Homo sapiens: one gene and its partner. The protein of the gene in region 2 interacts with the protein of the main gene of each other region in a pairwise test. Each region holds a gene or a part of one and is shown on either strand. Other genes may lie near its edges. The genes, in order: BDKRB2 and MPI.

Region 1 (3,814 bases), on a different chromosome or scaffold from region 2:
AACTCTCTTAGGTCTACAGCTGCCCCCCTGGCAGCTCTGATGCATTCGCTGCTGCAGAAAAGCCTGAACCCAGCCTGATTTTTCTTGCTTTATGGATTGCCTGTCCCCGCCCCCACCAACTCCCCAACCTCCAGTCAATCTGGATGCTTATAGTATTTTCTTTTTCTCTTTTCCATTCAAAAGTGCTGTCAGATGTATTTAGGGGACACTGTCTCGTCTCACCCCTTTTCATAACCTGTGAGCCGGGCAAGGCACCATTGCATAGGTGAGGGCTTGGAGGCTGGAGAGATGAGGGACTGGGACTCAAACCACATTTCGGGATTTGGGGACATCTCCTGGCTGTGCCCTGAGGCCACCCCGACTCTGGCATGTGAGGCAAACCTGCTGTACAACGAAGGGGTCTGGACGAGGGAGTCTCACCAGGGGTGTTCAAATCCCAGCTCTGCCGGTCACTAAGGGAGGGACTGTAAGTGTGTGGCCTCCTGTCAGAGCCCAGGTCCCCGCTTGTGGGATAAGGAGCATTGTCCCCGGCAGGAGGGCTGTTGTGAGGATCCAGTGTGGTCATCCCTGGCACTCAGGAATCCTTCCTGTTGGTTCCCGTCCTCTCTCAGGAATGACAGTCGCCTCCTCTTTCCCCCAAATCCACAGATTGTTCTGTCAAGTGATGGGCCTGGGTGCCCTCACCTCCACCCCCTCAGCCACAGACACCACAGTCCAAACAGACTCCCGGAAGATATGGCCCAGACCACTTGCAGGGAAAGTCCCTGCGGCTGTACTCATCCTCATGGAAAACATGAGGACTGGCGGGGACTGGAGGGCAGGGAGTGAGGGGACATGCAGGGTGCCCCCGTCACAGGGCAGAGGGCTCTGACTGGGGCTTTTGGATCACCGCCCACCATGGGGAGGCCCAGGCAAGGGACTCATGCTCCTACCCATCTCTCCAGCCCCAGCTCCTCCTTCCCCTCCTGTCCCCTCCCTGCCCCACTGGTCTCCCCTGGCCCTGCCTGAGCATCTTTGGGAGTTCCCACCTCTCGACCTTTGCTTATGTAGGGAGGCAGGATGCGATGGGAAGACCCAGGCCAGGCTCCAGGGCCAGCCCAGTCTCTAGCTAGCTCTGTCTCCCCTCTAGGGACCATTTCCTCAACTGTCAAGTGGAGACACAATGCCTACTTGGCAGGTTTGTCGGGGGGGATACTTGTGATTGTTTTGGGGGGCCAAGGGTGCCCTGGGGCTCAGGCATATGTCAATGGCACTGGGCAGTCTCCCCTACCCTTTCTCTCCACTGTGCACCCTCCCTTACTTAGGGAGACCCTCTACTTTACCTAGGTCTAGGTCCTCCAACTTGAAACCTGCCCACAATGACACATCAAACATTGTAGGTGTGTCATAAGCTGGTGTGAGGACATGCAGGCAGCAAAGAAGCAACTTGTGTGTGTACACGTGTGTGTGTGTGTGTGTGTGTGTGTGTGTGTGTGTGTTTGGGTCGGTCCAGACAGAGGCCCAGGAAGAAGAAGAGTGGAGATCCTGCCACATGGCTCCTGATGCTGGAGGCTTAGGGACAAACCATCAGTGTGACTGTCCCAGTGTCCTCTGGGGATGGGACTTGGGGTTACAGATTCAGAGAGCTGTGTTAGAACCACTTGGGTCTCTGCCTGTCTCTCCCACCAGGCTCTCAGCTCCTTGTGGGGAAAGATCTCTGAGCTGAGGGGAGCCCTGAGCAGTCTCTCAGTAAGTGGTTAGGGGAGGAAGGAATAAACCAGCTTCCTGAGTCTAGGCACAGTCTGGGTACTTTCATACACAGTCCTATTGTGTTGGCACAGCAGTAGTCTTTATCACACAGGTGAGAAAGGAGAGGTTCGGAGAGGTCAGTGACCTGTCCTGGGTTACTCAGCAAGTAATTGGCCTAGTAACCTAACCCAGGACTGTTGAACAATCGGGCCAGTTGGTGCCAATTTCTAAATATTGACTATTAAAAAAATACTGGTGGCGAAATAGCTAGCACATCTGTGAGCCTGTTTGGGTTGTGGGCTCAGACCGAACTCCTATAAAGCATATGAAGCAGAGATGGTAGAATCCCAGGCAGGGGCCATGGAATGGGGGAGGGGGCGTTAACTCCTGCTATCCTACCTTTCTATAGGTGAGGCGCCTGCTGTTCAGAGACACAGGAGCATCAGCAAAACCCATCAAAGAACTGGGGGCCAGGGTAGAAAGGAGACCTTTCTGGGGGTGCTGATGGAAACTCCTACCCAGGCAAATCTTGTTTCCCAGGCATTCCCCCAGTGAAGACTGCACTGCTGTGCCCAACTTTGGCTGCAGGCTACTCTTTACCACCCAAGTGAGCCGCCACCCACTGATCTCTGCCATCAACTTATTCTAATTCTCTGCATAGCACATAGCACTTCCTGGGATTGCCCTTCTCCTGTCTGCTCTTCAAAGAGCCATCCTTAGATGGCCTACTGACATTAATGCTTTTTACCTTTCTAACTTGTCATTTTGTTTTTGTAATTCTTTTCTTTCTTCTACTTTTTTGGATCATTATTATCTAGTTTATTGAATTGAACAGTTTTTTTTTGCAATCTTTTTGGTTTAATAATTTAAAAATTTAAAGGCATGACTCATCCCCTGACTATGGCTTTGGCTGCATCCCATAAGTTTGGTAAGCAGTGTTCTTATAGTTAGTTGTTTCTCAAATATCTATAATTTCAGTTTTGATGATCTGTCTCTTTGATGTAACAGTGTTTTCTAAAATTTTCAAGTAGTTTATTTCTATTCAAGTTTGTTTTGCTTTTTATATTTAAATTTTTGCAAAGAGATATGCATCCTCATGGTAACATTTCAGAGTGCGAAAAAGAATACAGTGAGGGGTAGGTCTCCCTCCAGATTCTGTCCCTGCCTGTTGCCTCAAGAGACAGCCAGGCTCACTGGTGTCTCCTGTTGCTTTCCAGACATCTTCTGAGCTTTCAGGAGCAGATGTGCACATATCCATGTATAAGGACGCCTGCAGAAGCACCCTAAATGCACCGCCGGCTGTGTCCTCACCTCTTTGCATTTAACAATCTGTCGACCCACCTTGCTTTTCAATAGCCTCACAGTATTTCAGAGTAGGACTGCCCTGTAATGCACCGGCCTTCGCAGGGAGTTCCCAGTTTTCGTAGGTAGTTTGCAATTCTACTACTATTTATAGCTGAAGGAACCGAAGGATCCCAGAGACCACATCTCTTGCCCTAGGTCACACAGCAGGGGAGGAATGGGGTGGGATTCAATCCCTGTGCCTGGCTTCCGAAAAAGGAGGAGCGGGAGGAGGAGGGAGAAGGGAAGTGGGTGGAGAGAGGAATCATCTTCACAGAGTCCATCTCCCCAATGTGCTACAGTTCATTTGAGGAGTCCCCCCAGGTTTTCACTACTTTTGGCTATCACAAATGATCAGCACAGATCCCTCATCTGCAGGCCCTGGCCCACGTGTGAGCACACCTGTAGCAGGTGTGCAGACCCTCTCCTGCCTCCCCTGACCTGTTCTTGTGTTCTAGCCATTGCTTTCTGGATCTTTCTGTTCAAAGAAGACCAAGAGGTCCTTCTCTCACCTCTCACTTTGCTAACCGGCCAGTGGGCTCCAGAGTGGGGGTGATGTACCCCAGGTGCAGCAGCGCATGCACAAGGTGCAATCTCCGAGGCTCCGGGAGAACCCCAGAGAGCCTCCCTCTGTGGTCAGGGAGTGACCCCTGCACTCTTAGAGCACAGCAGGTGCCAAGCATGAGTGGGTGCTAGGGGCTGAGGGAAAGGCCCAGTCTTTTCCCTCGAGAGGATTCCTGTTTGG
Region 2 (3,814 bases):
GACTTAAAATCAGAGTAGCATGGCATCACAGGGTTGGTGTCAGGATTCAAGGCGTGTTCAATGCTAAATGCATTCATCATCCCTACCAGCTGTTGCTTGCTGAGCCCAGGAACCCTCAGAGGTCAGAGCTGCAAGGTCCTTGGGGGTCTCCTTGACCACCCTTCTCCTTCCTTTGTCCAGATAGGGAAACAGGGCCCAGCAGGGATGGCAGTGGGGCTCACTGCTGAAATGTGGCTCACCTCCTTTCAGGTAGGCATGGGGTACGTTGGCCTCCAGAAACATGGCCTCCCCAGGCTTCAGGGTAAGCAGGTTCAGGAAGTAGATGGCAAAGCAGCCGATATCACCTGGGTACTGCTGGTGCAGCTGTAGCAAAAGCTCCCCAAAGATGTCCTCCATGTTGTTTCCGGCAGCCGCTGAGGGTCACAGAGCACCCCAAGGTCACTTAGGGGGATACTCAGTGCTGTTCATAGCCCCACATTGGCCAGGGAGTCCTAGGAAAAGGTCCCTGCCACAGGAATCCAGAAGCCAAAGTGGCCCTGTCCTTCTGGCCACGCCTCCAGCCCTTTGGGGGTCGAGCCTTGCTTGATACTCCAGTCCATACAAATACCATCTTTCATCATATCTTGACTATTCATATGCCCAGGACTATACTAGCCACTAAAAGAGCTAGAGTATGGTCCTTTCAGGATGGGATTTCTCAGCCTTGGCGCTACTGACATTTGGGCTAGGTAATTCTTTATTGTGGGGGCTGTCCTGTGTACTGATGGATGTGTAGCAGCTTCCCTGGCCTCCACCCACAAGATGCCACTAGCAACCCCTATCTGGGTTTTGACAATCAAAAAATGGCTCCAGACAACAGCCAAATGTCCCCTGTATGAGAACCACTGCCCTTGGAGCTCAAAATCTAGGGAGATAACGCAAAAGAGTTTCATGAAGGGTAACCAACATGCCCGAGCTTTCCCTTTTTTTTTTTTGAGACGGGGTCTCGCTGTCACCCAGGCTGGAGTGCAGTGGCACGATCATACCTCACTGCAGCCTCAACTGTCCAGGACCAAGCAATCCTCCTACCTCAGCCTCCTGAGTAGCGAGAACCACACGTGCATGCCACCATGCCCGGCTAAGTTTTTTATTATTTGCAGAGAGAGGGGGTCGCTATATTGCCCAGGCTGGTCTCGAACTCCTGAACTCAAGGGATCCTCCCACCTAGGCCTCCCAAAGTGCTGGGAATACAGGTGTGAGCCACCGCACCCGGCGACTTTCTAGTTTTTAGCACTGAAAGTTCTGTGTCTCAGCTGGGCGCGGTGGCTCACACCTGTCATCTCAGGACTTTGGGAGGCCAAGGCAGGCGGATCACGAGGTCAGGAGTTCGAGACCAGTTTGACCAACATGGTGAAACCCCATCTCTACTAAAAATACAAAAAAAAAAAAAAAAAAAGCCAGGTGTGGTGGCACGTGCCTGTAATCCCAGCTACTCGGGAGGCTGAGACAGGAGAATCGCTTGAACCCGGGAGGCGGAGGTTGCAGTGATCGAGATTGCACCACTGCACTCCAGCCTGGGTGACACAGCGAGACTCCGTCTCAAAAAAAAAAAAGAAAGTTCTATGTCTCAGAGAATCTCTCTCGGTCTGCTCCAGAGAGCATGAGGCAGAATGCGCTGAGGGCCAAAATGTGTCCTGGAAACGACAAGGGAAAATGAGCTCAGCCTGGGTAGAGTGGCAAGGGTGGACTTCTTTAATTTTTAAATTTTTTTTCTTTTTCTTTTTCTTTTTTTTTTTTCCGAATCGGAGTCTTGCTCTGTCTCCCAGGCTGAAGTGCAGTGGTGCAATCTAGACTCACTGCAACCTCCACCTCCTGGGTTCAAGTGATTCTTGCGCCTCAGCCTCCTGAGTAGCTGGGATTACAGGCACACACCACCATGCCCAGCATTTTTTTTTTTTTTTTGAGACAGAGTCTCACTCTATTGCCCCGGCTGAAGTGCAGTGGCATGATCTAGGCTCACCACAACCTCTGCCTCGCCTGGCTAATTTTTGTATCTTTAGTAGAGATGGGGTTCCACCATGTTGGCCAGGCTGGTCTTGAATTCCTGACCTCAAGTGATACGGCCGCCTCAACCTCCCAAAGTGTTAGGATTACAGGTGTGAGCCACCGTGCCCAGCCAGGCTTCTTTAAAGTGAGGCAAGGGGCCTGGCGTGGTGGCTCACACCTGTAATCCTAGCACTTTGGGAGGCTGAGGCAGGTGAATTGCCTGAGCTCAGGAGTTCGAGACCCGCCTAGGCAACATGGTGAAACTCCGTCTCTACTAAAATATAAAAACTTAACCAGATGTGGTGGCACATGCCTGTAATCCCAGCTACTCAGGAGGCTGAAGCAGGAGAATTGCTTGAACCCGGGAGGCAGAGGCTGCAGTGAGCCAAGATCGCACCACTGCACTCCAGCCTGGGGCAACAGAAAGAGACCACACACACACACACACACACACACACACACACACACACACACACACACACACACACACACACACACACTGAACAGAAAAAAATATGCTTGGGTCAAATAAATAATGCCCTAAGGCTCAAAGGTAATGGGAAACCTGTAGAGGTAAAATAAAAAGAGAGCTCTGGGCCACCTAGAGAAGGGGTTGTGGCTGCCAGGCTAAGAAGCTGAGACCTCATCGCCTGCACCACATAAGCTCATTGCTGGGAGTCTGTTCTGTTTTGGGTTTCTTACTGCTTGTGTTGACTCCCCACCTTTAGGGTGACAGTGACCACACCCATCACAGTCATTTCCTGAACTCTTCTTAGCACAAGGTTGGGCACACAGAAGGTAAAGGAAAGATCAAATGACTGAGTGCTGGAGGCATCAGTCCTTTCCAGGAGAGGGAGGATGCTCGTGTCCCCTTCCTGCCTCTTTAGCCCCGAGATACAAGTCCATCCATGGAGGGCAGCTGCAGGGCTAGGGAAAATCTCAGAATGCCTAGGTGGAAGGCATCCTAAGAGTCCTCTATGCCAGTCTGCCTCCAACCATCTGGAGAAGATGACCAGTTGGGAAGCAGCACTCAACTAAGAAGGGCCCTGCTCCACAAAGACTAGGCAAGCAATGCTAAGTTGCCAACAGGTCATCTAAGTGGGGCCCCTTTTAGTGTTCCACTTGGGCAAGGGGGTTGAGAACTGTCCCCAGAGTCTGGTGTCTGCTGGGAAGCCCAGGCCAGAGCATTGCACCCAACCAGGAATATAACTGTGTCCACCTTGCTGGGAGATCCGCTTCACCAACAGGTTGAGCTGTTCCACCACCACCTTCTTCTCACTCTTCATCAGGTGGGAGAAACAGCTCTGCAGAGAGGAGGCCACAGCCTGGGAGTCATGGCTCATGGTCTGCTTCAGGTGTGTTGCTGCCTCATCTCCAATCAGGAACTGAAACTCAGGCACCTCTACAGGAAGGCAAGGCCCAGGGCCCATATCAGGAATGGTAAGATGGAACCCACACAAGTGGGGAGTTGGAGGACACCTTTCCATCCCAGCCCTAACCAAAGAGCCGGCAATGCTAAGTAAACTTTGCAGTGGAAACCAATCACTCACCACCAGCCCTTGACTACCACACCTGAGCCTGGTCTCACTGGCCTGGCTCACTGGCTCCAAAAACTGCTTCATGAGGCCCTTCAGTTCCTGTGACATGTGACCCGTTCTCAGCCACTGTTCCTATCATCTTGGTTCCCCAGGTATCCCTGGCCCAGTACGCATGCCTTCAGCATTCTGCCCAACTTACTCTTTAGAAAGGTTACAATCTCCTCAACTGGCCGGAAGCCACACAAGCCCTG

The links.
Region 1: the proteins of MPI (region 2) and BDKRB2 interact in a two-hybrid assay, tested with the Homo sapiens proteins (one large-scale study listed by BioGRID and IntAct).

What each region holds. Positions count from the first base shown.
Region 1 is NC_000014.9:96,211,160-96,214,973, reverse strand, and holds part of BDKRB2 (B2 bradykinin receptor), read right to left. Parts: intron 1-3,814. UniProt on the Homo sapiens protein: Receptor for bradykinin. It is associated with G proteins that activate a phosphatidylinositol-calcium second messenger system.
Region 2 is NC_000015.10:74,892,751-74,896,564, reverse strand, and holds part of MPI (mannose-6-phosphate isomerase), read right to left. Parts: coding exon 3,763-3,814; intron 3,428-3,762; coding exon 3,245-3,427; intron 414-3,244; coding exon 240-413; intron 1-239. UniProt on the Homo sapiens protein: Isomerase that catalyzes the interconversion of fructose-6-P and mannose-6-P and has a critical role in the supply of D-mannose derivatives required for many eukaryotic glycosylation reactions.